Homo sapiens: one gene and its partners. The protein of the gene in region 1 interacts with the protein of each later gene in a pairwise test. Each region holds a gene or a part of one and is shown in the gene's direction. Other genes may lie near its edges. The genes, in order: ZSCAN26, PDE4DIP, CDR2L and KRTAP4-12.

What was found.
Region 2: the proteins of ZSCAN26 (region 1) and PDE4DIP interact in binary tests that used the Homo sapiens proteins (3 or more experiments, as listed by UniProt).
Region 3: the proteins of ZSCAN26 (region 1) and CDR2L interact in binary tests that used the Homo sapiens proteins (3 or more experiments, as listed by UniProt).
Region 4: the proteins of ZSCAN26 (region 1) and KRTAP4-12 interact in binary tests that used the Homo sapiens proteins (3 or more experiments, as listed by UniProt).

What each region holds. Positions count from the first base shown.
Region 1 is NC_000006.12:28,272,158-28,279,878, forward strand, and holds the end of ZSCAN26 (zinc finger and SCAN domain-containing protein 26), read left to right. Parts: coding exon 1-182; exon of another isoform or gene 183-512; coding exon 513-630; intron 631-3,973; coding exon of another isoform or gene 3,974-4,037; coding exon 4,038-4,939; 3' UTR 4,940-6,047; downstream 6,048-7,721. UniProt on the Homo sapiens protein: May be involved in transcriptional regulation.
Region 2 is NC_000001.11:148,845,995-148,853,715, forward strand, and holds part of PDE4DIP (myomegalin), read left to right. Parts: intron 1-7,721. UniProt on the Homo sapiens protein: Functions as an anchor sequestering components of the cAMP-dependent pathway to Golgi and/or centrosomes.
Region 3 is NC_000017.11:74,999,214-75,006,934, forward strand, and holds the end of CDR2L (cerebellar degeneration-related protein 2-like), read left to right. Parts: intron 1-290; coding exon 291-403; intron 404-2,127; coding exon 2,128-2,276; intron 2,277-2,850; coding exon 2,851-3,015; intron 3,016-3,969; coding exon 3,970-4,861; 3' UTR 4,862-6,587; downstream 6,588-7,721.
Region 4 is NC_000017.11:41,120,787-41,127,843, reverse strand, and holds KRTAP4-12 (keratin-associated protein 4-12), read left to right. Parts: upstream 1-3,661; 5' UTR 3,662-3,721; coding exon 3,722-4,327; 3' UTR 4,328-4,753; downstream 4,754-7,057. UniProt on the Homo sapiens protein: In the hair cortex, hair keratin intermediate filaments are embedded in an interfilamentous matrix, consisting of hair keratin-associated proteins (KRTAP), which are essential for the formation of a rigid and resistant hair shaft through their extensive disulfide bond cross-linking with abundant cysteine residues of hair keratins.

The sequences.
Region 1 (7,721 bases):
TACAGCCCGAGACCCATACCAAGGAGCAGATCCTGGAGCTGCTGGTGCTGGAGCAGTTTCTGATCATCCTGCCTAAGGAGCTCCAGGCCCGGGTGCAGGAGCATCACCCAGAGAGCAGGGAGGACGTGGTTGTTGTTCTGGAGGATTTGCAGCTGGATCTTGGAGAAACAGGACAACAGGTGGTAAGGGTCAGATGTGCTCTTTTTCAGGAATGCAGGAATTGAGATCTCTGGCCAGACAGGTGGACATGGGCTCATCAGCGGAAGGAGAATTACTAAGCTTTGATTCAGTTTTTTTCCAGTCTAGCTGTTAATTTCCTTAGGTCTTACCTCAACCTTACCTGGCCCTTGCTTGGAGAAAACTGAATGTGCACCAGATTCCCCATCTTCTTTTCTTTGCCCCTCTGGGGTTTCTCTTTCTTCTCTTTTTTAACACCTAGGTGTTTTACTGAACAGCAGTTTCCTAAACCCACATATATCTAATTATGCCTCCATATACCTAATTGTCCCTAGGACCCAGACCAGCCAAAGAAACAAAAAATACTTGTGGAGGAGATGGCCCCTCTGAAAGGAGTACAGGAACAGCAGGTTCGGCATGAGTGTGAAGTTACAAAGCCTGAGAAAGAGAAGGGTAAGAATTGGATTGCATCTTCTGTGTGTGAGACGTGGTGGACTGTGCCTTTCCCTCTGAGGTTGTGCTTAGCACCCTTGTATTTTGTTTTTTGCTTTTGTTTTGAGTCAGGTTTACTGAAGCATAATTTATATGTAGTAAAATTCACTCTTTTTAGATGTACAGGTCAATGAGTTTTCACAAATGCGAAATAATTGTGGTCTAATCAGGACCACTATCAAGAGATAAGAGATATCTATCACCCCAAATATTTTAGCTGAACAAAATAGCAAGAAAAGGGTACAAAGGGAACCTGGACCTTCACCTTGCTCTTCTTCCTCTTACTGTAGGGGTGAATAAAAAAAGCAGTGCCAGGCCAGCTACTTGGGAAGCTAAGGGAGAAGGATCACTTGAGCCCAGTTCAAGGCTGCAGTGAGCAATGATTGTTGCACTGCACTTCAGTCTGGGCAACATCTCTTAAAAAAGCAAATAGTGGCCAGGCATGGTGGCTCATGCCTGTAAACCCAACACTTTGGGGGGCCAAGGTGGGTAGGTATACGAGGTCAGGAGTTCAAGACCAGCCTGGCCAAGATGGTGAAACACTGTCTCTACTAAAAATACAAAAATTAGCCAGGTTTGGTGGCGGGTGCCTGTAATCCCAGCTACTCGGGAGGCTGAGGCAGAGAACTGCTTGAATCCAGGAGGCTGAGATTGCAGTGAGCTGAGATCACGCCACTACACTTCAGCCTGGGCGACACAGCAAGACTCTGTCTCAAAAAACAAACAAACAAAAAAAAAAACAAGTACTGCTAGTTTCTTAATCAAGGCAAAGAAAGCCACATGCTTCATTACTCATTTTTTAACATTTCCTTCAAATTATTGTAAATGGCCACTATCTTTCATTTCTAAACGTCACCTGGATTTTTTTTTTTTTTTGGTTCTATACTTTCTTTTTTGTTGTTTTTCTATTGAGACAGGGTCTTGCTCTGTCTTCAGGCTGGAGTACAATGGTGCAGTCATAGCTCACTACAGCCTTGACCTTCCAGGCTCAAGTGATCCTCCCACCTCAGCCTCCCAAGTATCTGGGACTACCGGTGTGTGTGCCACCACACCTGGCTTTTTATTATTATTATTTGTAGAGACAGGGTCTCCCTCTGTTGCCCTGGCTGGTCTCGAACTCCTGGTCTTAAGCATTTCTCCCATTTGGGCCTCTCACAGTGCTGGCATTATAGGTGCAAGCCACTCGCCCAGCCTCCTTTATTTTCTTTGTCACTGAAATTCTTCTTCCTAATTTTTGCTCCTTACATTTTTTCATTTCTTCTTTTTTTTTTCTGTCATAGAACTAATTACATTATATTGCAGTTTCTAGTTTGCTTCTCTTTTTCTCTTGCCAGACTAAAAGGGAAGGGGTTTTGTTTTGTTTTCTGAGTCAGCTACAGTCCCTGGCCTAGTGTAGACCCTCAATAAATGTCTGTTTGATGAATGACTGGTTTTATATGTAAAATCATGCTTTACATGCTACCTATTCCTCTGTTCAATTTCCAAGTCAGCTTCAAATTACCTTTCTTCTGGGAGCATCCTGAATAAAGTAGCTGAAAGAAAGGGGCCTACCTTTTCTCAATAGCCTTGCAGAAATGAATTAGCCTTGCAGAAATGATTACCATGTAATCAGTGATGGGTGTATAGTTTAAATACAAAAAGTAAATGTGGCTGCTGTAATCCCACTACTTTGGGAAGCCAGAGTGGGAGGATTGCTTGAAGCCAGATGTTTGAGACCAGCCTGGGCAACATAGTGAAACCCTGTCCTCTACAAAAAATAAATAAATAGCTAGGCGTGGTGGCATGCAGCTGTAGTTCTAGCCACTTGGGAGGCTGAGGCAAGAGGATTGCTTGAGCCCAGGAGTTCAAGACTGCAGTGAGCTATGTGATTGCACCACTGTACTCCAGCGTTGGCAACAGAGCAAGACCATGTCTCAAAAAAAGTGAATGTAATGTCAGTAGACTCTTGAAAATGTCCCTTACCCTCTGGATCTGTTAAAAATGTTATTTTATATTCAAAGTTCAGGTTGTTTTTTGGTTTCATCCTCTCTTGCTTTTTTAAAGTTGTATATGTGATTATGTCATTACTGGAAGAGTCTTATTCCTTTCCCTTAATCTCTCACTCTTGCCCCCTGCCCCTGTGTAGGACTGAATACTTCATTCTGTTGTAGAGGGTCTTTGTACACAGTACATTATTACATTATTTAATTTATTCACTCCCCACCTGTGACCTTCCTTTCTCTGATGTCTCCTTACTAATTCCTTCACTTTCACTTTTCCTTTCAGCTGTCATCCACTCTTTCCTTTTTACTTATCTGCTGAATTAACTTGCTCACACTGATTAACCCTCTTTTGTTTGTTATTAGTGCTGCTTAGAGTCTTTCTTCTATTTTCTCCATCCAGCTTTCCTTTTACTCTCTCATTCTGACTTTGCATCCCCAGTCATGCTCCTAGCCTTTGAAGAGTTATCCTTAGCTACAAGAAAAACTGGTAAATAAAAATATAAAATGAAACAAAACAAAAACTTCACATTCTTCTCACCCGTCTGCTTGTGTATCTGAGCTTAAGTTTTCTCTATTTTCATTTAATTTCACCCTTAGGACACAGGCCATTTATTTAGTAAACATTTGTTTAATGTCTGTTATGTACCAGGCTCTGTGCTAGAGAAAACAAAGTCTGCTCTGCATGTGCTTACAGTCTCTTGGGGCATTGTGCATCAGGGGTGCAGGGAGCGACAGACATGAATAAATTATCATAGCGTTGAGATTAAAGCTCTGTTGAACCACACAGGAGAGCAGTTACTGCTGTCCAAGGAGATTAGGAAAGGCGAAGGCATTTTTGTGAACTTCATGTTATTGTCAAGGTCTTATAGTACATTATTCTTTCTTTATGGATGAGGACACAGAGCCCAGATGATTTACCTTACTTTTTTAAGATTACACAGTTAGTGATAAAATTGGGCACCACATCTACATTTCTTCATTTTCAGTTAAAATGTCGTCCCTTTCTTATGGGCCCTGGGGGCCTCAATTAACCTAGCTTTTTTTATTTTCCATGTGACAAGTTATCTTCAAGACTGTACAGCCATGCCCTTTAAGACAGTTTATTTGCTTGCTTGCTAGCTTCTCTGTGTGTGGTATCCCATGATAAAATTTAAACTATTTAAAATAAGTCACCTCCCACCAGAATTCCCCATCTTTCCCCAAAGACAGTCACAGTTAACAATGTCTTGTGTACCATTCTGTAACTATTTTACGCAATCACAAGCATCCACAATGTTTTTACTTTGCACACATGGCTTCATTATATTTTTTTTTCCTTTTAGTTGCAGATTCCTTTCCCCAAGCATCAAAAGACAAGTAATTGGTGGTATATATTTAATATTGCAGGTGAGGAGACAAGGATTGAGAATGGGAAGCTTATTGTAGTAACAGACTCTTGTGGAAGAGTAGAGTCATCTGGGAAAATATCTGAACCCATGGAGGCTCATAATGAGGGCTCTAACTTGGAAAGGCATCAGGCCAAGCCCAAAGAGAAGATTGAGTATAAATGCTCAGAACGTGAGCAGAGATTCATCCAGCACTTGGACCTGATTGAACATGCGAGTACACACACGGGAAAGAAACTCTGCGAGTCTGATGTGTGTCAGAGTTCCAGTCTTACAGGACATAAGAAAGTCCTCTCTAGAGAGAAAGGTCATCAGTGTCATGAGTGTGGGAAAGCCTTTCAGAGGAGTTCACACCTCGTCAGACATCAGAAAATCCATCTTGGTGAGAAGCCTTATCAGTGCAATGAGTGTGGCAAAGTCTTTAGCCAGAATGCAGGCCTTTTGGAACATCTCAGAATTCATACTGGAGAGAAACCTTATCTATGTATCCATTGTGGAAAAAATTTTAGGCGCAGCTCTCACCTTAATCGACATCAGAGAATTCACAGTCAGGAGGAGCCCTGTGAGTGCAAGGAGTGTGGAAAAACCTTTAGTCAGGCCTTACTCCTCACCCACCATCAGAGAATCCATAGTCACTCCAAAAGCCATCAATGTAACGAGTGTGGAAAAGCTTTCAGTTTGACCTCAGACCTTATTCGACACCACAGAATTCATACTGGAGAAAAACCTTTCAAGTGTAACATATGCCAGAAAGCCTTCCGACTAAACTCACACCTTGCTCAGCATGTAAGAATCCACAATGAAGAAAAACCCTATCAGTGTAGTGAATGTGGAGAAGCCTTCAGGCAAAGGTCAGGTCTTTTTCAACATCAGAGATATCACCACAAAGACAAACTGGCTTGATGAGGTGTTCTCTCCTTGTAGAACATCAGAGAAGGCACATTGACTAGCAAACAGCACTTTAGGAAAAGTCACCGTAGCCCACTGTGGCATCAGAAAATTCTTGGGGGCTGAGTTGGAGGCTCCCTGCCTCTATTCTCTCTCCTTTGCTTTCCTTGAAGTCAGCTTTGGACCACAATAATTTCACTGTAGATGATATGCTAGGATCAAAGTTAAACAGCATTCTTCACTGCAGGACATCTCAGAGCATGTAACATAACTGCATGATTATATACTCTAAGCAATAGAGAGCTTCATGACTGAGTAAGAGTTTTGAAGTCAGCAGTGAATCAAGTGCCCACAGATTTGCAGGCTTAAGCAGAACAAGGGAAGATTGATATTTTTGGATATGCTATAGCAGCTTTCTCCTATGAAATAAAACTGATGATGTTTGGAAGTATACTACTCTCAAAGGTGTCTTTAAAGTACAGGTTAATGGTGAACATTTTCCCCCAGTGGCTTCACCTCATTCCTCCCACTGGCCTTACCCCTTCCTTCCCCAGTGGAAGCATTTTCAAAAGCAAAGATAATTTTCGCTGGTGAACTTCAGAACTTGCCTTCAGGGTTAGCTTCATGTAATTTTACCATTTCCCATCCCCATTCCCCACCACATTATGTCAAGATTCAAGTTATAAATTAACGTTTTACTTAGACTTTGAAAGAGATTTCATGAGTAATTTGAATGAACCTTGCTGAATTAATCTGAATAGCAACTGTCTGACTTGATAACTCCAGTGCCAGTATAGTGGCTGCTGCATAGACACTATTCAGTAAATGTCTGATGAAAGAAATTGGACTTTTTCCCTTTAATACTGATGATGCAATTTTGAAATGTTGCTTGTTCTGGAATACTTCGGAAGTTAAACAATAAAGTCAGCTTGGAGAGGAGATCATGATCTTTATACTGTGAATAGCAGAATGTCACAGATGAAGAATATTAAAATTAGGGGCGTCCACTCCAAAACATATCACCAGAGTGACAACTTCAGCCCTCAGCCTCTGCAATCCATATATATCCTGGTCTTGGGAGTCCATAGAATACTGTTTCCTTCTAATAAAGGTTTCAAACAAATCCCTGCAGATTTATTTAAAGTGTTTGTGGAAGATAATTTTCCATATAAGCTGTGCAGTATTCTATGGTATATGTCCCCATTGTTCATCATTTACGTCATTTACAGTTTGATCACCATAAACAATTTTTCAGTGAACATCCTTGTATATACAACTTTGCCTACTTACAGAATTTTTTTCTTTGTTCAGTTCCCATAATGAGAATCAATGAGGCAGAAGGTAGGCATATTTTCTAAGGCTTTTGATGCATTTTCCAGAATGCCCTCCAGAAAAGTTACACTAATTTGTACACCCTGTTAGCAGCCTATGATAATGCCCAATTTTCTATACCCACGTAAACTGGGAATTATTCTTTTGAATATTTGACAATCTGATGTGTACAAAATGGTTTGCTTTTTTTAATAAACCATTTTTTAGAGCAGTTTTAAGTTCTCAGCAAAATTGAGAGGAAGATACAAAGATTTCTCATATACCCACTGCTCCCATTCATGTATAGCCTCCCCTATTATCAACATCCCCTCCCAGGGTGACATTTGTTACAATTGATGAACCTACATTGACATATTATCACCCAAAGACCATAGTTTACATTAGGGTTCACTCTTGGTATTGTTCATTTTATGGGTCTGGACAAATACATAATATCGTGTCCACCATTATAGTTTCACTGCCCTAAAAATCCTCTGTGCCTTACCTATTATTCATCCCTCCCTTTTTCCAGCCCCTAGCAACCACTGACCTTTCTACAGTCTTTATAGTTTTGCCTTTTCCAGGATGTCATGTATACAGGTTGAGTACAGCTAATCTGAAAACCCAAAATCCAAAATGCATTAAAATGTGAAACTTCAGCACCAACATGATGCTACAAGTGAAAAATTTCATACCTGACCTCGTGACAGGTCATAGACAAAATCCAGTCAATACTTTGTTTCGGCTGGGTGCAGTGGCTCAAGCCTGTAATCCCAGCACTTTGGGAGGCCAAGGTGGGTGGATCACCTGAGGTCAGGCGTTTGAGACCAGCCTGGCCAACATGGCGAAACCCCGTCTTTGCTAAAAATATAAAAATTAGCCGGGTGTGGTAGCATGCACCTGTAGTTCCAGCTACTTGGGAGGCTGAGGCACGAGAATCGCTTGAACCCAGGAGGCGGAGGTTGTGGTGAGCCAACATTGTGCCACTGCACTCCAGTCTGGGCAACAGAGCAAGACTCAATCTCAAAAAAAAAGACTATGTTTCATGCACGAAAGTATTTAAACTGTATAAAATTAGCTCTATGTGAGTAAGGTATATATGAAACAAATGAATTTCATGTTTAGACTTGGGCCTCATCCCTAAGATATTTCATAATGTATGTATATATTCCAAAATCCGAAATTGGAAACACTTCTGGCCCCAAGCATTTCAGATAAGGGATACTCAACTTGTAGTTGAAATCATACAGTATGTAGCTTTTCAGACAGGATTCTTTCACTTTGTAATATGCTTTTAAATTTTCTCAATATCTTTTCATGCCTTGATAGCTCATTTCTTTTTTTTTTCTTTTTTTTTTTTGACATAAGGTCTCACTCTGTTGGCCAGGCTGGAGTGCTGTGGTACGATCTTGGCTCACTACAACCTTTGCTTCCTGGGTTTAAGCAATTCTCCAGCCTCAGCCTTCTGAGTAGCTGGGACCACAGG
Region 2 (7,721 bases), on another chromosome or scaffold:
AAATGACGACTGGGAGTGGGGAGGATGTGGTAGCTTCCTTCAAATTTCCGAAGAGCTATTGGTGGTAGAGGGATTGAATCACATTAGAATCTCTTAGGAGGACAGAACAACCGATGCAAGCGAGTTGTTGGGAGGCGAGTTATGGCTCAGTGTAAAGAAAAAGCTTTCTGGCCAGGTGCAGTGGCTCATGCCTGTAATCCCAGCACTTTGGGAGGCTGAGGCAGGCGGATCACCTGAGGTCGGGAGTTCGAGACCAGCCTGACCAACATGGAGAAACCCCATCTCTACTAAAATACAAAATTAGCCGGGCGTGGTCGCACGTGCCTGTAATCCCAGCTACTCCGGAGGCTGAGGCAGGAGAATCGCTTGAACCCGGGAGGAGAAGTTTGTGGTGAGCCGAGATCAAGCCATTGCACTCCAGCCTGGGCAACAAAAGCGAAACTCCGCCTCAAAAAAAAAAAAAAAAAAAAAAAAAAAAAAGACCAGGCGAGGTGGCTCACGCCTGTAATTGCAGTACTTTGGGAGGCTGAGGGGGGCGGATTACGAGGTCAGGAGATTGAGACCATCCTGGCTAACACAGTGAAGCCCCGTCTCTACTAAAAACACAAAAAAAATTAGCCGGGCGTGGTGGCGGGCGCCTGTAGTACCAGCTACTTGGGAGGCTGAGGTAGGAGAATGGCGTGAACCCGGGAAGCGGAGCTTGCAGTGAGCCGAGATCGCGCCACTGCACTCCAGCCTGGGCGACAGAGCGAGACTCCGTCTCAAAAAAAAATTAAAAAAAAGCTTTCTAACAAGTTAGCTGCCTGGGCAGTATGGGCAGTAAAGAGATTGTTGACCCTGGAGTTACTCAGGCAAAGGCTAGATGACCACTTGATGGTGATGGGAGTGAGTGTATCAGGGCCTTTTGCTCTCTGCCAGTGTTTTTCACACTTGAAGAAAAAAGTATTATTTATTAAGTTTTAAAAATTTTATATTTACATGTAACAATTTCAGACAAATTCAGAAATGATTTGGAAAAATCGCAAATTATATATTTACAGTCCAATTAATTTGACAAACTGAGTATACTCATGGGATGGGCATTCAGATAGAGAAAGGGAACATTACCAGCATCCCTGAAGCCCTCCTGATGACTTCAAGGATAATCATTATCCTAATTTTTAACACCATAGAATAATTTTGCCTAGTTTTGAACTTTATGTAAATGAAATTATACACCATGTACTCTTTCGTACGTGGCTCCTTTCACTCAATCTTTTGCTTTTGGAGTTCTATACTGTTATATGGTACTGTAGTCCATTTATTCTTGCTTTTAAATAGGCTTCTATAGTGTATAAATATATCAAATTTATTTGTCCATTCTATTCTTAATAGGCACTTGGGCAATTTCCAGTTTGGAGCTATTATAAACAGTGTTGCTATGAACATTTCTGTACAGGTCTTTTGATGAACATATGTACACATTTCTGTTGAGTAAATAAGTAGAAGTATGATTTCTGCGTAATAGGAAATGCATGTTCAGATTTAGTAAATACTGCCAGATTGTTTTTTTTTAAACAGATTACAAAAGAGATTTCTAAAGCGGGTATCCAGGCCAGGCGCGGTGGCTCACGCCTGTAATCCCAGCACTTTGGGAGGCCGAGGCGGGCGGATCACGGGGTCAGGAGATCGAGATAGTCCTGGCTAACACGGTGAAACCCCGTCTCTACTAAAAATACAAAAAATTAGCCCGGCGTGGTTGCAGGCACCTGTAGTCCCAGCTACTCGGGAGGCTGAGGCAGGAGAATGGCCTGAACCTGGGAGGCGGAGCTTGCAGTGAGCCGAGATCGCACCACTGCACTCCAGCCTGGGTGACAGAGCGAGCCTACATCTCAAAAAAAAAAAAAAAAAAAAAAAAAAAAAAAAAAAAAAAAAAAAAAAAGAGGGTATCCAAAGGGAAGAACATAGTGAAAAGGTGCTCCACATCACTAGTTATCAGGGAAATGCAAATTAGAACCACAACACCATGCTGCTATATACATATCAGAATGGCTGAAATTAAAAAGATAGAAAGTAGCAAATGCTGGCAAGGTGGACCATTCAGAATGTTCACATATTTTTTAACCACTACTCACAATAAGTAATATATTTACATTGCCACCAAGTACTCTTACATATGTAACAAAGTTTCTTGTAACAATACTTAACTTTACTATGTGTTTTGCACTCTGATATTTGCTATTCTATTCTTTTTCTTTAAAAATAAAATGTTGGCTCTGATTCACTGAATTTATTTCTCCACCTAATGGGTCACAGTTGGAAAAATCCTATAATCACAGATCATGGCTGACATCTCAGATCCTTCCTAACTCACAGATCAGATTAGTTCATAAACACTTATTAAAAATTTGAGGGCCGGATGAAATGGCTCACGCCTGTAGTCTCAACAGTTTGAGAGGCCAAGGCAGGTGGATGACTTGAGGTCAGAAGTTCGAGACCAGTCTGGCCAACGTGCTGAAACCCCATCTCTACTAAAAATACAAAAATTAGCCGGGTGTGGTGCCTGCACCTGTAGTCCCAGCTACTTAGGAGCCTGAGGCAGGAGAATCCCTTGAACCCGGGAGGCGGATGTTGCAGTGAGCTGAGATTATACCACTGCACTCCAGCCTGGGTGACACAGTGAGACTCTGTCTCAAAAATAAATAAATAAATAAATAAATTTTGAGAGCCCCAAACAGGTCAGACGCTGTGCTAGATGCTAAGAATAAAACAATGAATGCAATGAATGAGACTGGGTCTCTGCCTTTAATGGCTTTACATTGTCATCATCTATAATTTTAATAGAGAGACACTAAGGCAGAGATACGCAGTGGCTGCTCTGGGTACACAGTGGATAGGGGATTGAAAGAATAAAAATTAACCATAATTGATAACATTTATTAAGCTTTAATTGTGTGCTAATCTCTTTGAATACTTAATTCACCTAATCCTTACAACCCTATGAAGTAAATGTTATACTCATTTTTAAGAAAAGGAAATTGAGCTTCAGAAAGATTAAATAATTTTCCCAGAGTGACACACACAGCCGAGAAAGAAATATAGCCTTGAACTGTTTCATTCCAAAATCTATGCTTTTACTTTATTTTAGTAGAGTTTTGTAGGTGACTCAGTTTATGACTTGTTTCTGAAGCTAGCTACTTGCTCAATTTACCCACAAAGGACAAGGTGCTTGGTATTTTAGTTCTCAAAGTTAGATATGCTCTACTCCCAGCTACACATCATCTGCCCCTCTACAGCTCAATGGAAAGGTTCCCCCTACCCGCTGGGGCCGTTACCTGACTGTTGCCAAACTCACTGGTTAAATCATTTGGACAGAGCATGGTTGGCTCTGGAATAGCAAATTTTCTATGAATATACTGGCATTACAAAAAGCTGATTTGGTCACCAGCTTTCAGATTTATTTCCGTGAACAGGGCGAGAGTTGTCAAAAGAATAAGCTCATGGAGCTGATGAAGAACTTGATGATGAGGGGAGGTTTTCTCACCCGGCAGGTCCAGTGTCAACCAGGCAAACAGCTTCTACTGCTCTAAATTTTTAGCATCCACCTGTCTGGACTAGCAACTCCCTACACCTTCTGCTTTAAAGATTATCAGTACTTCAGGATTACTGTTTGTATTAATTTCCTGTTGCTGGTGTAACAAATCACCACAAACTTTTTTTTTTTTTTTTGAGATGGAGTCTCACTCTGTTGCCCAGGCTAGCGTGCAGTGGTGCAATCTTGGCTCACTGCAACCTCCGCCTCTCAGGTTCAAGGGATTCTCCTGCCTCAGCCTCCCAAGTAGCTGGGATTACAGGCACATGGCACCACACTCAGCTAATTTTTGTATTTTTAGTAGAGACGGGGTTTCACCATGTTGGCCTGGCTGGTCTCAAACTCCTGACCTCAAGTGATCCACCCGCCTTGGCCTCCCAAAGTGCTGGGATTACAGGTGTGAGCCACTGCGCCCAGCCAAATCACCACAAACTTAGTGGCTTAAAACAATACAAATGTATTGCCTTAAAGTTCTGGAGGTCAGAAGTCTGAAATTTGGTCTTCTAGGTTAAAACCAAGGTATCAGCAGGACTGTGCTCCTTCTAGAGGCTCTAAAGGAGAATTTGTTCCTTGCCCTTCATGGCTTCGAGAGACTGCCCACATTCTGGGTTCATAGCCCCTTCCAGCAATGCCATCACTGGCCTCTGCTTCTATCATCACATCTCCTTTGATCATTCTGACCCTCCAGTGTCCCTCTTACTAGGACCCTTATGATTACATTGGACCCAACCAGATAATCCAGGATAATCTCCTCATCTCAAAATCTTTAGTCACATCTGCAAAGCCCTCTCTTGCTATGGAAAGTGGCATATACACAGGATCTGGGGATTAGGAATGTGGACATTCTTATAAGGCCATTATTTTAGCCTACCACATCGTTCAATGCTGAAAAAGTCATTACTAATTATCTTCCCCATTTCAGTGGAAATGTTCTGGTTTCTAGCATATGAGAAAGCTGAGTAAACATCAGGTGAATCATATATGAACCTTATACAACTTCCCCGAACACATAACTCAAGAAAAGAGTGAACTAGAAATGTTTAAGGGCAAACTATAAGACTGAAGGTTAAAAAAGGAAAGCAAATTAGTCTGTTTTGTTTTGTTTTCTATTCCCCTGCAATTTGATTTAATAAAATGCAAGCATTAATTGCATTTGCTTGCTGTATCTGTGAAAATTTGGAAAATGGAAGTAACATTCAAGAAAATTAATGATCTGGTTTCAAAATTTAAGAATTTTGACTTTGTTTCTTTTCTGGAGTACAGCCTTCAAGCAAGACAAGGTGTCCATTTACCACAGCTATATTGTACTTAACAGATCTCCATTGATAGCTTATTTGAATTTGTTTTTCTCTATATAAATGTTTAGCCTAGAGGAATCAGGGACATTTATTTTTCTCTGAATTTATGGTGAGTTAGTAGAGAGTCCTGTTTACAAAGACATAGTTACAACCAGAGATATATGGCCACTGAGGTTAAAGTGGTTAAATGATTTGCTGGCATTCACACAACTAGTATGTGTTGTATGAAGGCCTAGTTAATTCCAGTACCTTTACTTATTATGGTGCTGGTGCTTTGCATGTAACACTTCATATTAGGAAAATGCTTGTTTTCAGAATTCTATTATTGAAACATCTTTGGAAGTTGAATTTCCTGTTTAATATTCAGCACTGCTAGCAACTAATTATCTGAATTTTAAGAAGGAAATTCTGCCTTGGCAACTCCAGTCTACTTTTAAATGGGCCTATACTTGGATTTCGGCTTGGGGAATTTGCCAGAATCAATGCTTTCACTCCTACTTGCTTATTTTCCACACACTAGATCAGTCTGGACCTGACTCCCCCAACCCCCATTTTTTCAGCTACATGCTAAGACTATGTTTAAAATACCTAAAGACTGGGAAGGGGTTGTTTTTGTCTCAGAAAGGATAAGTAACACCTCATGGTGCCGTCCCCATCCTGGGAGGCTCGCCTGACTGTGGCTGAGGGATCATATTTTCAAGGCTAAGTGGAGCATCCATCCATTCAGTGGATGCCCCAGGACACTACTTCTATTGAAATCTACCCCATTTTATAAATAAAATTCCAAACTGGGCTCAGAACATTCCACAAGCTGTCTCTGGCAAAAATTCAAATAGCATTTAAAGTTAGAAGAAAGTCCAGAATACAAGAGATGTCATATTGACCCAAGGTGGCTCTATGTGATTCTATTTTAAAACACTCAAATGCACTGAGGACTTGTTTTCCTCTGCCTCAGAGCATTTTCTGAGTTCTGTGGCCAGCAAGACAAGCATGATCTGAATTTCTTTTTTCTGAACGCTTATGGCTAAAGTGCTAAATTAGTCATAGACTATTTATAATAAATTGTATAATAATACTGTTTTATTTTCATAGCACTTTCACAGCCTGTGATTCATCTTTCCTTAATCTGTCTCATTATCTTCAGTCCTTTTCTGCTTGTTACATTCCACAGAAACGTCTTTCTTTCTTGTCTTTTCCAAGGCCAGTGAGGGAAGAGGTAACTTGCAACTAGTGTCTTCTTATCATGGTCATGGTGGAAAGGGTGGAAAGAAGCAATAACTTCTGACATATAGAAAGCATTCACTGGCCAGGCACAGTGGCTCTCGCCTGTAATCCCAGCACTTTGGGAGGCCAAGGCAGGAGGATCACTTGAGGTCAGGAGTTCGAGACCAGCCTGGCCAACATGTTGAAACCCCATCTCTACTAAAGATACAAAAATTAGTGGGCATGGTGGGGGGTGCCTGTAATCCCAGCTAATCGGGAGACCGAGGAATGAGAATTGCTTGAACCCAGGAAGTGGAGGTTGCAGTGAGCCGAGATCACACCACTGCACTCCAGCCTGGGTGACAGAGCAAGACTTTGTCGGAAAAAAAAAAAAAAAAAAAAAAAAAAAAAAAACTAGAAAGCATTGACTCACAAAGAAAATTGAATAATTTCTAGCATTTCACACAATTTAAGAATGAATTTATTTTCCACTTCATAATGTGGTATATTATCATTCATAATGTAGAATAACATGCTGTGGATTTACAGTGTCTTTTAAATCATTACGCCTAACCCAAAGGATGTAGACTTCCAATTTTTAACTATTATAAATAATACTTGATAAATGTCTAGGTGCATAAAGCATCTTCTTCCACAGCATTATTTTTTGAATGAGAGATGTTCAGAAGTAGAATAACTATGTCAACATTTCCAGTTCTTGAAAGTACATTGCAAATTACTTAAAGTTATAGTCCCATAAGAAAGATATTGCATTCAATTTAAATATCTTTTTCAAGACCTGAATCCCTGTATTGTAAAGGGGGAAACTGAGGCACACTGACATTAAAGTGGCATAACCTAGGTGAATCAATAGCAACATTTCCAACTTTTACCCTTCTCTAGGGTAAAATGCTTCACTGTTGCTGTTAATCTCTATTACTATCCTGAAACGTTTCCTGAAATGATAATAAACAGAAAATTTTAACATAAGAAAGTAAAAGATAGATGTAAATTACATCAAAACTATGTATACCTATTAGGATGTCTATTACAAGGACAGAGAAAAGAGAAAATAGATGCCTTGTTTGGTTAGGGGATTATGGGCAACATCCTTTATATGCTGCTTTTAAACTAAGTCAACATAGGTTTTTATTGCAGGAAGAAGTTCACATTTGTGTCTACCAAATGACAACATGTAAAGTTTGGAATTGAGTTGGTTTTAGGTTTTTCTGTGTATCACTTGGAGGTTTTCTGTGTATAACTTTCTTGTATTACTTGGAGATTTTCAGGTTATTGGCACCACAGGAGCAGCATTATTGCCAGCAGACCCGGGGAGCTGGTTGGAGAGTCATTGCGACTTAATTTACCCTGAGCTAAAATTATTATGAGTGGGCCTTAATATACCAGTTGTTCCCACCTACACATCTAGCCTTGCCTTTGCTGGGATAAATTTGTATACCCTTCAGAGGTTAGATTCAGAAGTACCTCCTTTAGGAATTATTTTTAGAACCTAGATCTGGGTGTAGCCAGAACACGCTCTGCCTACTCTGTTGTAGCATGTAGCTAGTTGGTTAACTTGATATTTTCCATACTCCAAGTTTATCGGCAGAATGAAACGTTTTTGTCTATAAGTCTTCAGCATCTAACAT
Region 3 (7,721 bases), on another chromosome or scaffold:
GTGGCAAAACTTTCACAACCTGGAAAATGTTGAAAGCAACCATTCCTATTTTTGTTTGTTTTTTATTACATCTTGCACACACACACACACACACACACACACAGACACACACAAAAAGAACATTCCAGGCAGAAATAACAGTGCAAAGGCTTAGCTCCTGGCTTACCTCTCCTCCCAGGCCTGGAGGCTCCCAGTGTCTTGGTTACATTGGGGTCACCTAGAGTAGATGCTCGGAACATGAATGGGCGTCCTCTGCCTTTGTTCTCATGCTCGTGTTTCTCCTATCCTAGACTTGCACCTAGCTGCGGAGCTGGGGAAGACTCTGCTGGAGAGGAACAAGGAGCTGGAGGGGTCCCTGCAGCAGATGTACTCCACCAATGAGGAACAGGTGCAGGAGATCGAGGTGAGGGCCCTGCATGTGCTTGCCCACACCCCTCGAGGGCCCCTTGGCCTGTGTGTGCCTTTATGCAACTTAGAATAAGGTGCCAGCTTATCGGACACAGCCTTAGCCCAATAGCCTGGTACAGTTCACAACTGTGCTATCCTGTACAAGGATAGCACAGCTATCTCAGGCAGCCCTATTGCACAACTAGATTTTTTTTTTTTTTAAATAGACACCAAGTCTCACCATGTTGCCCAGGCTGGTCTCTAACTCCTGAGCTCAAGTGATCCTCCCACCTCAGCGTCCTAAAGTGCTAGGATTACAGGCATGAGCCACCAGGCCCAGCCTGAACCACCATTTTTAAGCCCCACTCAGCTGAAGACAAATACATCAAAGCAAACTTGTCCTTAGAAGGGGAGAAGGGGCTGCTGGCTCATGCTTGTAATCCCAGCACTTTGGGAGGCCAAGGTGGGTGAAATACTTGAGCCCAGGCAACATGGCGAAACCTTGTCTCTATAAAAAATACAAAAATTAGCTGGCTATGGTGGCATAAGCCTGTGGTCCCAGCTACTCAAGAGGATGAAGTGAGAGGATTGCTTGAGCCTGGAGGTTGAGGCTGCAGTGAGCCGTGATTGTGCCACTGCACTCCAGCCTAGGCAACAGAGCGAGACCCTGTCTTAAAAATAAATAAATAAAATAAATAAGATTTATTTCTTTTTTGAAATGGAGTCTCACTCTGTCACCCAGGCTGGAGTGCAGTGGCGCGATCTGGGCTCACTGCAGCTCTGCCTCCCGGGTTCACGCCATTCTCCTGCCTCAGCCTCCTGAGTAGCTGGGACTACAGGCGCCCACCACCGCACCCGGTTAATTTTTTTTGTATTTTTAGTAGAGACGAGGTTTCACTGTGTTAGCCAGGATGGTCTCCATCTCCTGACCTCGTGATCTGCCCGCCTCAGCCTCCCAAAGTGCTGAGATTACAGGTGTGAGCCATCACGCCGGGCATAAAAAAGATTTTAGAAGTTAAAAAAAAAAAAAAAGGCCGGGCACAGTGGCTCACACCTGTAATCCTAGCACTTTGAGAGGCCAAGGCGGGCAGATCACGAGGTCAGGAGATCGAGACCATCCTGGCTAACACGGTGAAACCCCATCTCTACTAAAAATGCAAAAAATTAGCCAGGCATGGTGGTGGGCACCAGTAGTCCCAGCTACTCAGGAGGCTGAGGCAGGAGAATGGTTGGCGTGAACCCAAGAGGTGGAGCTTGCAGTGAGCCGATGTCGCGCCACTGCACTCCAGCCTGGGCGAGAGAGCAAGACTCCGTCTCAAAAAAAATAAATTAATTAATTTAAAAAAAAAAGAGGCTGGCGTGGTGGTGCATGCCTATAATCCCAGCCCTTTGGGAGGCAGAGGTAGGCAGATCACTTGAGGTCAGGAGTTCAAGACCAACCTGGCCAATATAGTGAAACCCTGTCTCTACTAAAAATACCAAAATTAGCCAGGCATGGTGGCAGGCACCTATAGTTCCAGCTACTCAGGAGGCTGAAGCATGAAAATCACTTGAACCCAGGAGGCAGAGGTTGCAGTAAGCCGAAATCATGCCACTGCACTTCAGCCTGGGCAACACAGTGAGACTCTGTATCAAAAGAAAAGAAAAGAAAAAAGACAAAAAAAGAAGTAGGAGGGTCTAGGCAGAGACATTTGCCCCTGCCCAATTCTAAAAAGTTACTCAATGTCCTTCCACCCCCAGTACCTAACCAAGCAGCTGGACACGCTGCGGCACGTGAACGAGCAGCACGCCAAAGTCTATGAGCAGCTGGACCTGACAGCCCGGGACCTGGAGCTGACCAACCACAGGCTGGTGCTGGAGAGTAAGGCTGCCCAGCAGAAGATCCATGGGTGAGGGCCCGGCTGAGGGCTGGGGGGCGGGCGAGGGAGAGCCCCAGGGCTGAGTGTACACAGGGGCCCATGGACTGATGGGTGTGACTTGTGCACGTCTCCCTAGGAACCGGGGATGGGAGTGAGCTTGTCCTTGTCGATTTTGTGTGGTTTAACATTCAGGCCGCAACCTTGCTTTAAGCACCAACTATGCACCAGGCTCTTCTTTAGACACTGGGGATGCAACGATGGGGAAACAAAGACATTGTCCTGCCCTCTAATACCTCACAGCCTGGAAGAGAAGGCAGGCATGTAAATATTTTATGGCAGTGCAGGACAATAAGTGATAGAGGAGTGACAAGGAACTGAGGTGGCACAGAGGAGAAGCGATCAGCTCGCCTGAGAGGTACAAAAGAAGGGCGGGTCCTTGGGCATGCATAGAATTCCCCATCCTACCTCAGGACCAGACAGCGGCTCAAGGGTACCTGTCTGCCTCCTACCCAACGTCCCTCCATCTTCAGGGAGCCAGGGCTGCCGTGAGGCAAACTGGCCCCATCCCCTTAAAGTCCCTGTGTGTCCACCACCCCGCCCCCAGGCTGACGGAGACCATTGAGCGCCTCCAGGCTCAGGTGGAGGAGCTGCAGGCCCAGGTGGAGCAACTGAGAGGCCTGGAACAGCTGCGAGTGCTCCGGGAGAAGCGGGAACGCAGGCGTACCATCCACACCTTCCCCTGCCTCAAGGAGCTGTGCACCAGCCCCCGGTAGGTGAGAGCACTGCTTGGTGTCTCTGGGATTGCCAGCCATGGGAGGAAGGAGAGGCAGCAGGCAGCAGGGTGCAGTTGGTGCATCATCCAGGCCATCAGAGAGACTGGTCCTGTTGCTAATGACAGTCACAGCAGCTGGCGTTTACTGAGCCCTGGCTGTGTGCTGCCACTATGCTGATATAATTCTTATTGCAACACTGTTGGGGGTGTTTTATTATGCCTACTCTCCAGATGATAAAACTGAAGCCCAGAGGTTGTGTGTCTTATCCAAGGTCACCTGTTTAGTAAGAGGCTCAGCCAGCATGCTAACCCAGGAGGGGTAACCCACTGTGCTTTTCAGTTCCCATTAAATCTAACACTAGACAACCACTTAATAATGGAAAAATACATGTGTCATATGTAGTGGGTGTTTCAATAAGGGTCCTGGCAGGAAACAGTCTCTTACACAGAGTAATGGAGAAGTTAAATGAAGAAGAGGTGTGGGCAGGGGGTAGGGAAACCACAGGGACACTATAGTGCCCCAGGGTTGCAGCAGAGAGGAGCTGCCACCAGCCCTAGGCCTCAAAGCGCAAGGGGGAAGGGAGGTTACCGGCACCTGGAAGGTATGGAGAAGGCTGCCTGGTCACCATTAACCATGGAGAGCCCAAAGAAGACACACCCCACGGCCTCTGCTCCCCCCTCGGACCTCTAGCCAGTGCCTCTCATGGGCCAAGCTCAGGAGAGAACCAGGCAACCTGACAGAGGCGGTCCGTAGTGGTCAGCCTCCGGGGGCAGAGAGCAGGGGGAGAAGGGTGGAGGAGGGTGGAGAGCCAACGGAGAGGGGCAAACAATTTCAGCCCAGAGAACAAGAGAGATGTAAGCGCCCTGGCTGGGCTGCTCGGCCTTGGCCGTGCCCGTGACCACTGCCCTCTCCTCCGCCCCCACCCCGCTGCGACTCTCACTACCCGCCAGGTGCAAGGATGCTTTCCGCCTACACAGTTCCTCCCTGGAGCTGGGCCCGCGGCCCCTGGAGCAGGAGAACGAGCGGCTGCAGACCCTGGTGGGGGCGCTGCGCTCCCAGGTGAGCCAGGAGCGGCAGCGCAAGGAGCGGGCGGAGCGCGAGTACACCGCGGTGCTGCAGGAGTACTCGGAGCTGGAGCGCCAGCTGTGCGAGATGGAGGCCTGTCGCCTGCGTGTGCAGGAGCTGGAGGCCGAGCTGCTGGAGCTGCAGCAGATGAAGCAGGCCAAGACCTACCTACTGGGTCCGGACGACCACCTGGCCGAGGCCCTGCTCGCACCCCTCACGCAGGCCCCTGAGGCCGACGATCCCCAGCCCGGCCGCGGGGACGACTTGGGCGCCCAGGACGGGGTCTCCTCACCGGCAGCCTCTCCAGGCCACGTGGTGCGCAAGAGCTGCAGCGACACTGCGCTCAACGCCATCGTGGCCAAAGACCCAGCCAGCCGGCACGCGGGCAACCTCACACTGCACGCCAACAGCGTGCGCAAGCGGGGCATGTCCATCCTGCGGGAGGTGGACGAGCAGTACCACGCGCTGCTGGAGAAGTACGAGGAGCTGCTGAGCAAGTGCCGGCAGCACGGGGCCGGAGTGCGGCACGCCGGCGTGCAGACCTCGCGCCCCATCTCCCGGGACAGCTCGTGGAGGGACCTGCGCGGGGGTGAGGAGGGCCAGGGTGAGGTCAAGGCAGGAGAGAAGAGCCTGAGCCAGCACGTGGAGGCCGTGGACAAGCGGCTGGAACAGAGCCAGCCCGAGTACAAGGCGCTCTTCAAAGAGATCTTCTCCAGGATCCAGAAGACCAAGGCTGACATCAACGCCACCAAAGTCAAGACGCACAGCAGCAAGTGACCCTTCTCCGGCCTGCAGCCTCCCCCAGGGTGGAAGCCGTGGGGTCCCTCAGGCCTGGGCGGTGCAGCTTCCAGAGAGCGAGCGCCCTTTAGCGGCCTGCCACCACAGCACGCGGCCTCCTGATCCGGAAGCACGCAGCATGTTCCCTGCTGAGCGGAGGCAGCCCACCTGTCCTGCCTCCCAGGAGCCCTTGGCCACCTCGCGCCAGCCCAAAGGCGCAGCTCTGAGTTCAAAGCCAAATGTCCCCACTACCCCAGGGATCCCCCAGCTCCCCCAGCCCCTGGCTTCCTGACCCTGCGCCTCACCCTCAGACTGGTGACCAGGCTTCTGAAAGCCATTCTGGATCAGTTGGCTTTTTTTTTTTTTTTGGTTAAGTTTGTTTTTTCTAAGAGATTTGCAATGCAAGGTCTCCTTGACCCCTTGCCACAACTGGAAACACTTGAAAGGGGACCCCAGGGCCAGCTGTTTCAGGGGTTTCCTGGACCACCCACTGCTTCTCCCCAACCCTGATGCGCTGACATTCCCTTAGCACCAGCTGTCCCACCTCCAGGGTCCTGACCAGGTCAGAGATGTCCCCTGCCATGCAGAGCAGGAAGCCTCAGCTGGGCCTGGAGTGTCCCTGCTCCAGCCCTGCCAGGGACAGGTTTCTCCCTGGATACTCTTGGCCCACCGCAGATCTGTAGCCAGTCAGAGGAGGAGGAGAAGGAGCCCCTCAGCAGAGTGGTGCAGTTTCGCTCAGAGCTTGTCTCCTTGGCTTCCAACCCCAGAAATGCCTGCTGGGCCTTAAGCTTTCCAGGGGCCGGGGCAGTGGGGAGCCCCCATCCCTTCACACCGCCACCAACTAACCAAGCTTGGCCTCTGACTCCCGTCTCTGTGCTTGCCCCCATCTCAGGGACCATGATGTCTCAGTCACTCCACGCTCCCCACAGGCCAACCCTGGCACAGGTCATGTCTGCAGCCCCCAGAATGTTCTGGACATGCACCACCAGCCGGTGGTCCCAATGTCCACCCCTGCCTCCCCTTCACTGGGGACTGGGGTTTTCGCCCCATGCTGCATCGTGTTGTATTGGGATGGGGCTGAGGAACATGCTCCCTCCCTCCCTCCCATAAAATGCCTGCTCTTCACCTCCCACCTTTGTGGGGGGCTTTTGAGGACCCAGCTGCGTCAGGAGTTTTGCTTCAAGATGTCAGAAAGTCAAGTTCAGCTAAGAGACACCCAGGTCCCCAGCTTGCCCTGAGCAGCCCTTCAGGGCTTCTGGTTCCTTCTGCCGCCCTTCCTGAGACCTTAGAAACCAGAAGAGCCATACAGTCAGTGGAAGGCGGGGGGGCCCTGGCCTCTGCACCGGGATCCCAGTGGGAACCTTCATGCCTTATTTATTTCTAATGGGTAAAGGGGTTTTCTTACCAAGCATCCCTGACCTCCTGGAGACACCACCTGCTTTCCGGGCGGCACTGTGATGGGAGCTGGTGGCGACTGAGTCCTTCTGTACGTGCAACTGGGAAACTTTTGTCCTTTGAGGCTAGGCAGCTCCCTGCCCTCCGTGTGTGTCTGTTATCTGGGGGAGAGGAGTGTGGAAGGGTTGGGGGAAGAGCTCCAGCCTGTCTGCTCCCCAGCTCTGTAGTGGCAGACCAGCGTCACCTTTGAAGTATACGTGAGAGAAATATATTTACAAATGCTTTATTCTCTTCTTTAATAAAAAATGCACCAGTATTCTAAAAGCAAAAATGGCCCATCTCTGTGCATCTCACACACCTGCCTCGCGTCACGCCCAGCCATGGGAGAGGGTAACATCCTGTGTCCCACTTCCCTGAGACTGAACAGCTCCAAATAGCAGGCTCTGGCAGAAGTTTCTATATTTATTGAGGGCCAGCTAGGGATACATGGTGAACAAGCCAGCAGGGCCCCTCTTCCCTTGGAGTTTATATTCTGGTGTGGGGAGATCCACCCAAAATAAACAAACAAAAGATACGGCATGATGGAAAAATCGGGGCAAGAGGGTAGTGCTACCTCAGCTAGAGCACGTGGGCCCAACAGGGTGAACCAAGTTAAAAAAAAAAAAAAAATCGGCCTGGCGCGGTGGCTCATGCCTGTAATCCCAGCCCTTTGGAAGGCCAAAGTGGATTGCTAGAGCCCAGAAGTTTGAGACCAGCCTGGGCAACATAGCAAGACCCCCTTTCTACAAAACATTTTTTGAAAATTAGCAGAGCATGGTGGTGTGCATTTGTAGTCCCAGCTACTCAGGAGGCTGAGGTGGGAGGATCACGAGCCTGGGAGGTCAAAGCTGAAGTGAACTATGATCATACCACTGCACTCCAGCCTGGGCAACAGAGCGAGACCCTGTCTCAAAAAATCATATCTAGATATATAAATACAGCACATGAAGAGATATACAGTGTTACTAAAATTCCTGGGGGAGCAATTCGGAGAAAATGTCTAAATAGGCTCTTTGAGGTAGGAAGGGGGAGCGATCATGGAAAAAAAAGATTGAGAAATGCTAAGCGAGGGTGGTCAGGGCACCTCTGGAGAGGTGATGATGAAGCTGAAACCAGAAGGCTGAGGAGGAACCAACGGGAAGATAAGTGGAGGCCCAGGGAGCAGCTGGGGCAGTGGGGGGTGGCCAGAACAGAGGGTGGAGGCCAGGCTCCTAAGAGCCCGGAAGGTTCAGGGGAGCTCGGGCCTCCTAAGTGCAATGAGACGCCACGGCAGGAAGTCCAGGGCCAGACTGATGCCCTGAAGGACCATGAGGGATGGGGAAGTTGACCTGCCCTTGGTGAGCCACCCATTGATGACACAGGACAGTCACAGGAATGACAAGAGGGCCATCTCCTGGTGTTTTTCAAGCTGATAAACCCCATATCT
Region 4 (7,057 bases), on another chromosome or scaffold:
GCATTTGGGACGAAAGATTGAAATGTAAAAATGATGAGTATTACTAAATTGATTATTTTCTCTCAACTTTTTCAGTGTCCACAACTAGAAAATATTTGCTTAAAAGATAAAGTACATCAGCGTTTCTACTGATAATTACAGGATTTTTACTTAACCTCATATCTTTTTCCTAAATCTCTTTTATTCCTTGCCAAAAATAACAGTTCCTTGATGTAATTACTCATTTTCTTTATTACCTAATGCTTGCACAACAATCTTGGAATAATATTGCCAATACTAATAACAACAGTGTAGTTATTGCAAACAAACTTAACAGGTTTTTGAAAAAAACATTTTGGCCTTGGGATAGTTACTTTCTCTGAAGTTATGCCTGGATATACAGTTAGATTCCATTGTTGTGGTGGTGGTTTTAGTGATTTTGAGAGATTTTAAAAATTTAATATTTTTATAAGTATGTAAAATATTTACATGGGTGCAAAGTCCAAGCTACAGAAAAAGATACATTCAAAAATAATCTAGTGTCTGTTTCTATCTTCTCTATTCTATTCCCTCCATCCTCTATGGGTCAATTTTTAAAAAACAAACATGGGCTGGGTGCGGTGGCTCACGCCTGTAATCTCAGCACTTTTGCGAGGCTGAGGCAGGGAATCATGAGGTCAGGTGTTCAAGACCAGCCTGGCCAAGATGGTGAAACCCCATGTCTATTAAAAATACAAAAATTAACTGGGTGTGGTGGTGGGCGCCTGTAATCCCAGTTACTCAGGAGGCTGAGGCAGAGAATTGCTTGAACACAGGAGGTGGAAGTTGCAGTGAGCCAAGATCGCTCCACTGCACTCCAGCCTGGGTGACAACGTGAGACTCCGTCTCAAACAACAACAACAACAACAACAACAACAAAACCAAATGTGGTTGATTCTTCCATTATTTTTTTCTTTTTTTTTCAGCTACATTAAATTACAATTGACATATAATAAATAAACTGCATGTACTTAAAATGCACAATTTGATGTTTTGACAGAAGTCCCTCTTTCCTGTTTTCTCATCTCCTCTCTCTCTATTCTTCTGTCGTTTTTTAAAGTGTAAGCAAATATACTTTCAATATTTATATCCTGGATTTTTAAAACATTGTTGCAGAACAATTGTACACATTTTCCTCCACTGCTTTATCGTCTCCTAACAATATCTACTGGAGATTAATTTATAGTAGCCTATAGAGACACTCCTTATTCCTTTTGACAGCTGCATAGTACTCCATCATGGGAAGGCACCACAGTTTATACACCAGTACCCTATTGAAGGACACCTGGGTTGTATCCAGTGTTGTTGTAGTTTTTAGTTTTTTTCCCAAATAGAACTCTTATGAATCGTCTTGTGCAATATCTTTCATATATTTACCTGAGTATCTTTGAGATATTTTATGGAATTGGGATAGCTGAGTCAAAGAATAATGCTGCTAGTTATTGCCAAACCTTCACAAGACAAATACGAGCATGCCTATTTTCACATCATCTCACTTCCAGAGAATGCTATCAGATTTTGAATTTTTGATAATCTAACAGGTGAGAAGTATCGTACCATATTATTTCATTTCTCTTACTATGCATGAGATTGAGTATATTTATATGGTGGTAAAATATTTGCATTTTATTTTCCCATTAGGCTGTTGGTCTGTTTTCTATCTATTTCCAGAAGCCTTTTTTTCTTCTTCTTCTGTCACCCAGGCTGGAGTGCAGTGGTGCAATCTTGGCTCACTGCAACCTCCGCCTCCTGGGCTCAGGCAATCCTCCCACCTTAGCTTCCTGAGTAGCTGGGACCACAGACCACAGATGCATGCCACCTCGCCATTTTTTTTTTTTTTTTTGCTTTTTTTTGTTTTTTTGGTAGAGATGGGGTTTTGCCAAGTTAACCAAGTTGGTCTCAAATTCCTAACCTCAAACAATCCGCCTGCCTTGGCATCCCAAAGTGCTGGGATTACAGGTGTGAGCCACCGTGTCCAGTCTCAGAAGTCTTTTATATACTATTAACCCTTTGTCCGTGATATTAATTGCTAGTTCTTTTTTTATTATTTAGTCATTTGTGTTTTTACTTTGTTTATGATGGTTTCTTACCATACATTTTTTTTTTTTAAATTTTACTTTAAGTTTTGGGATACATGTGCAGAACATGCAGGTCTGTTACATAGTTATACATATGCCATGATGGTTTGCTGCACCTATCAATCCGTCATCTGGGTTTTAAGCCCGACATGCATCAGGTATTTGTCCTAATGCTCTCCCTCCCCTTGTCCCTCACCCCCGACAGGCTCCAGTGTGTGATGTTCCCCTCCCTGTGTCCATGTGATCTCATTGTTCAACTCCCACTTAGGAGTGAGAACATACCTTGCATCTTTTTAATTATAAATAATTGTTTTTAAATATCAGGAGGGATTTAATTGCAAAATGTTCATGCGCAAAATGTTCCTTGAACACTCTAGGAGAGACGCCCTTTCCCTGTTACAGACTGTGTGACTTCAATCTATCTGGGCCTCAAGTACCTTGGATGTAAAGAATTTAGAAAAATTGTGTCTACATAGCAGAATCCTTGTGAAGTATAAACAAGATAACAATTATAGAGGACTCAGAAAATTCCTGACACATAGTAAGCACTCAAAAAATTATAACTATTAGTATTGTTTCATCTTTCATTGGAAGTGTACAGATTAAATACATAATTGTTATTTTGTTCACTAATCACACCATTCTCTAAATAGTTGCTAAATTCTTTCCTATACATGTTTCTTATTTGTCTTGTTTAAGCTTCTGTAGGACAGAAATTAAACTTGATCCTTTGTTTCTTTTCTCCATGTATCAAGCAAAATATCTCCAACATACATTGTGAGAAAAAGCAGCTTTCGAGTATGAGAAAATCTACTTTCAATAACACTTCAGTTAAACACATTCAGTGGGTATCTTGACTTACCAACAAAATAGAACAAAAATGTTCCTTATGATCCCCATCTCTGAAGAACATGCCAACAATAATTTATAAAGGGACCTATCATGCCAATGTATTTTTACTTGTAAAGCAATGAATCATTGCATTATATCTGTTTCAAGCTAAATAGAGTCAATAACATGAAACAGGAATTTCAGTGGGATCTTTTATATCTCACTGACCAGCCACAAAATTCAAAGGAATCACAGTGTTCCTTATTATACACAAGTTACCTCCTATCACCCCCCAAAGATGAATCTTTCATCACATTTTCCTACCAGCATTCTATGTAATTTATTTTTAACCTCTTTGAGAGCAGAGGAGATTTAGTCATCATAAAATCTATTTTCAACTTATTATCCAGGAGTCAAATAAATAAAGAATTAACTTATGAAATCCAATCAAACAATGTCATGTAATGGGTCTACACATCAGAAGACACATCAGATGAAGGAAGGAGAATGAGAGCTGATTCACTTGGCTTAACCAAATTGGATAGCTCAGAATACAACAGGAAAAGGAAATGTTGCCTTTTCTATTTATAGAAATATTTACCAGATAAGGACAACTATCTAATTTACTAAAAAACAACTGATTCTCTATTAGTAATGTGCAAACCACAAGATTATTCACATTGTCATAGTGGTTCTCAGCAGGGTATAAAAAGCAAAAGAGAGAACAAGGAGAGATCAAACTCAGAACACTCACTCTCCTGGAAACCCACCGAGAACCTCCACCCTCTGACACCATGGTCAACTCCTGTTGTGGCTCTGTGTGCTCTGACCAGGGCTGTGGCCTGGAGAACTGCTGCCGCCCCAGCTGCTGCCAGACCACCTGCTGCAGGACCACCTGCTGCCGCCCCAGCTGCTGTGTGTCCAGCTGCTGCAGGCCCCAGTGCTGCCAGTCTGTGTGCTGTCAGCCCACCTGCTGCCGCCCCAGCTGCTGTCAGACCACCTGCTGTAGGACCACCTGCTGCCGCCCCAGCTGCTGTGTGTCCAGCTGCTGCAGACCCCAGTGCTGCCAGTCTGTGTGCTGCCAGCCCACCTGCTGCCGCCCCAGCTGCTGTCAGACCACCTGCTGCAGGACCACTTGCTGCCGCCCCAGCTGCTGTGTGTCCAGCTGCTGCAGACCCCAGTGCTGCCAGTCTGTGTGCTGCCAGCCCACCTGCTGCCGCCCCAGCTGCTGCATCTCCAGCAGCTGCTGCCCCTCTTGCTGTGAATCCAGCTGCTGCCGCCCCTGCTGCTGCCTGCGTCCAGTCTGTGGCCGAGTCTCCTGCCACACCACTTGCTATCGCCCAACCTGTGTCATCTCCACCTGCCCCCGCCCCTTGTGCTGTGCCTCCTCTTGCTGCTAAATCTCTGCTGTGAACACACCACTTCCTTATTACGTCCTTTCCTACAGATGAAGGCTCTCATTGCAAACATGCGGACTGTTCAAGAGAATTGATCTGGGTCCCATAAGCAAACCTCATCCTTAGAAATTCTGTATTTGCATTCTACCTTTTGTCCAAACTCCCTTCCTTCCAAAGGAATTCATTGACAATCTCCTAATAAATTGACAAATTGTCCTCCAACATCCTCCCACCTCTTTGACTTCAGGACATTTATTCATCATGCCTAAGGAATTTGAAGATTGCCTCCATCATTTGTAGGGCCACAGATCTTAAAGCCTCCAACCTTGAAGTCCAGTGAAGTCTCTCTCTTAAAGTCTTTTGCAAACATTTTTGTACCTTGTTATTTCCATGTACCAAAATAAACCTCTATTCTATTGGCACTGAAAATTGAATATGATTCTTATTCTCTTTTTAAAAAGGGTTTTATATTTAGGTCCTGGGTGATTACATTTAACTACACCTGTAGGGCTCACAGCACAGATTAGTCAACCTTCTAACAGAGGTCAACTGACATCGATCACTGCCTAGTTTTTTTCTAGAAAAGTCTTTTCAGGCTTAGGCAAATCAATTAGTCATTTTGTATTCTTTAGACAAAAAGAGTGAAGCTGAAGTCATGAAATATCCATGAATATAACAACAGGGGAAACGTTTTGAAAGATTGATCACAACTCATCATCTTTTAAAAAATAATTTCAACTTTTATTTTAGAATCAAAGAGTACATATTCGTATTTGTTACATGTTGTGTGATGCTGAGGTTTGGGCTACAAATGATTCTGTCACCAGGTACTGAGCAGTGGGTCATTTTTAGCCCTTCCTCTCTCCCTCTCTCCCCCCTTTTTGGAGTCCCCAATTGTTCTCATCTTTGTGTCCATGTGTATCCAATGTTTAGCTCCCATTTGTAAGTGACAACATGCAATATTTGGTTTTCTGTTCCTGGAAAAATTTGCTTAAGATAATGTCCTCCAGCCACATCCATGTTGCTGCAAAGGACAAAATTTCATTCTTTTTTATGGCTGTGTAGTATTCCATGGTGTGAAAATGTCACATGTTCTTTATCCAATGCACTGTTGATGGGCACCTAGACTGATTCCATGTCTTTACTATTGTGCACAGAGCTGTGATCTTTTAAAACACTGTATTTCAATTTCTTTTTTTTTCCAGTAAAAGCAGCTATTAGGTGGTTTAGCAAAGTCCATGTATTTTCTACTGAGTCATGTGTAATGAATCCTCAACACAAACACAGTGGATCTCCTTCATTCTGACTGGCAGAGTTTCAATGGGGAGTTCATGCTGCCATGTAGAGAGGGCCACCTTCACGGCCAGGCAGGTGATGGAAATGAAGGAAGCAGGCCTAGTGAAAACTCACAGGTATGCTGGAGACTGATTTTTTTTCTTTTCGTCCAAAGTCATGCCCTTTTTTTAGGATGAAACTATAAAGACCCACATTTCTCCCCAACTAGGGATGCCTCTAATGGGTCATCTCATCTCCAGAACTCCCTATAGGTTCATCTGAGACTTCCACGGAGATTGCCCTGCAGTTTGATTTATCCCAGTGTCAAACTTGATCTTTCTCTCACTTTCCCTTCCTTTCCCTTCCCTTCCCTTCCCTTCCCTTCCCTTCCCTTCCCTTCCCTTCCCTTCCCTTCCCTTTCCCTCCCCTTCCCCTTCCCTTTCCCTTTCCCCTCCCCTCCCTTTCCCCTCCCCTGCCCTCCCCAGTGTTAATCCCAAGAGCATGCTTCAATAAACCTCCTGCATATTGCTCTCCATCTCAGTGACTGCTTCCTGGGGAACCCAGCCTGTCCCCCAAAACAATTTGAAATTCATGATAGCTAATTTGAGAGCTCAAATGACTGACTGAAATGTACTTTTAATATTTTAGTTCCTGAAAGAAATAAGAATGTAAACATAATAGCAGAAAATATATTTAACAGAATATGTAGAAAAATTATGAATTTTATATAAATCACATTTATTATTTTCTAAGGATGTTTAGATCATTTATACACAAATATATGCTCTTTAAACATTTAGACAATACAAAAGAATGTGACAATGTGAACAAAAGTAAGTTTCCCATCATGATCTTTGCCAATCCCATTCAATACCTAATGTTGCAAATTGAGATACATCCTCATTAAATGCATGCATAAAACATGTATGTATTTATTTGAAAACTTGGCTTTCGTTGCACATCTCTTGTTCTGACATTTATTCAAACATTATTTTATGTCCTTCCGGAAATGTTAACATTTTCCTTCACAAAGGCTTGGCAGATTTATTTACATATTTTTCTATTTACTCTTGAGAACTGTGAGTACATGCTTCTTTTTTTTTTTATTATACTTTAAGTTCTAGGGTACATGTGCACAACGTGCAGGTTTGTTACATATGTATACATGTGCCATGTTGGTGTGCTGCACCCATTAACTCGTCATTTACATTAGGTATTTCTCCTAATGCTATCCCTCCTCCCTCCCCCCACCCCACGACAGGCCCCAGTGTGTGATTTTTCTCCATTAAATTTTAGAGAGAATTATTGCTAGTGTATAAAAAGTCTATGGATTAGTATAAGTTCATATTTTATCTGATCTCGCGATTCACACTAATACCCAGCTGACTCTACAGGATTTTACAGGTGTGCAATCATGGTGGCCAAGTGCCTCCAGCCTCAGGCTTGTCCCTGGGGTTC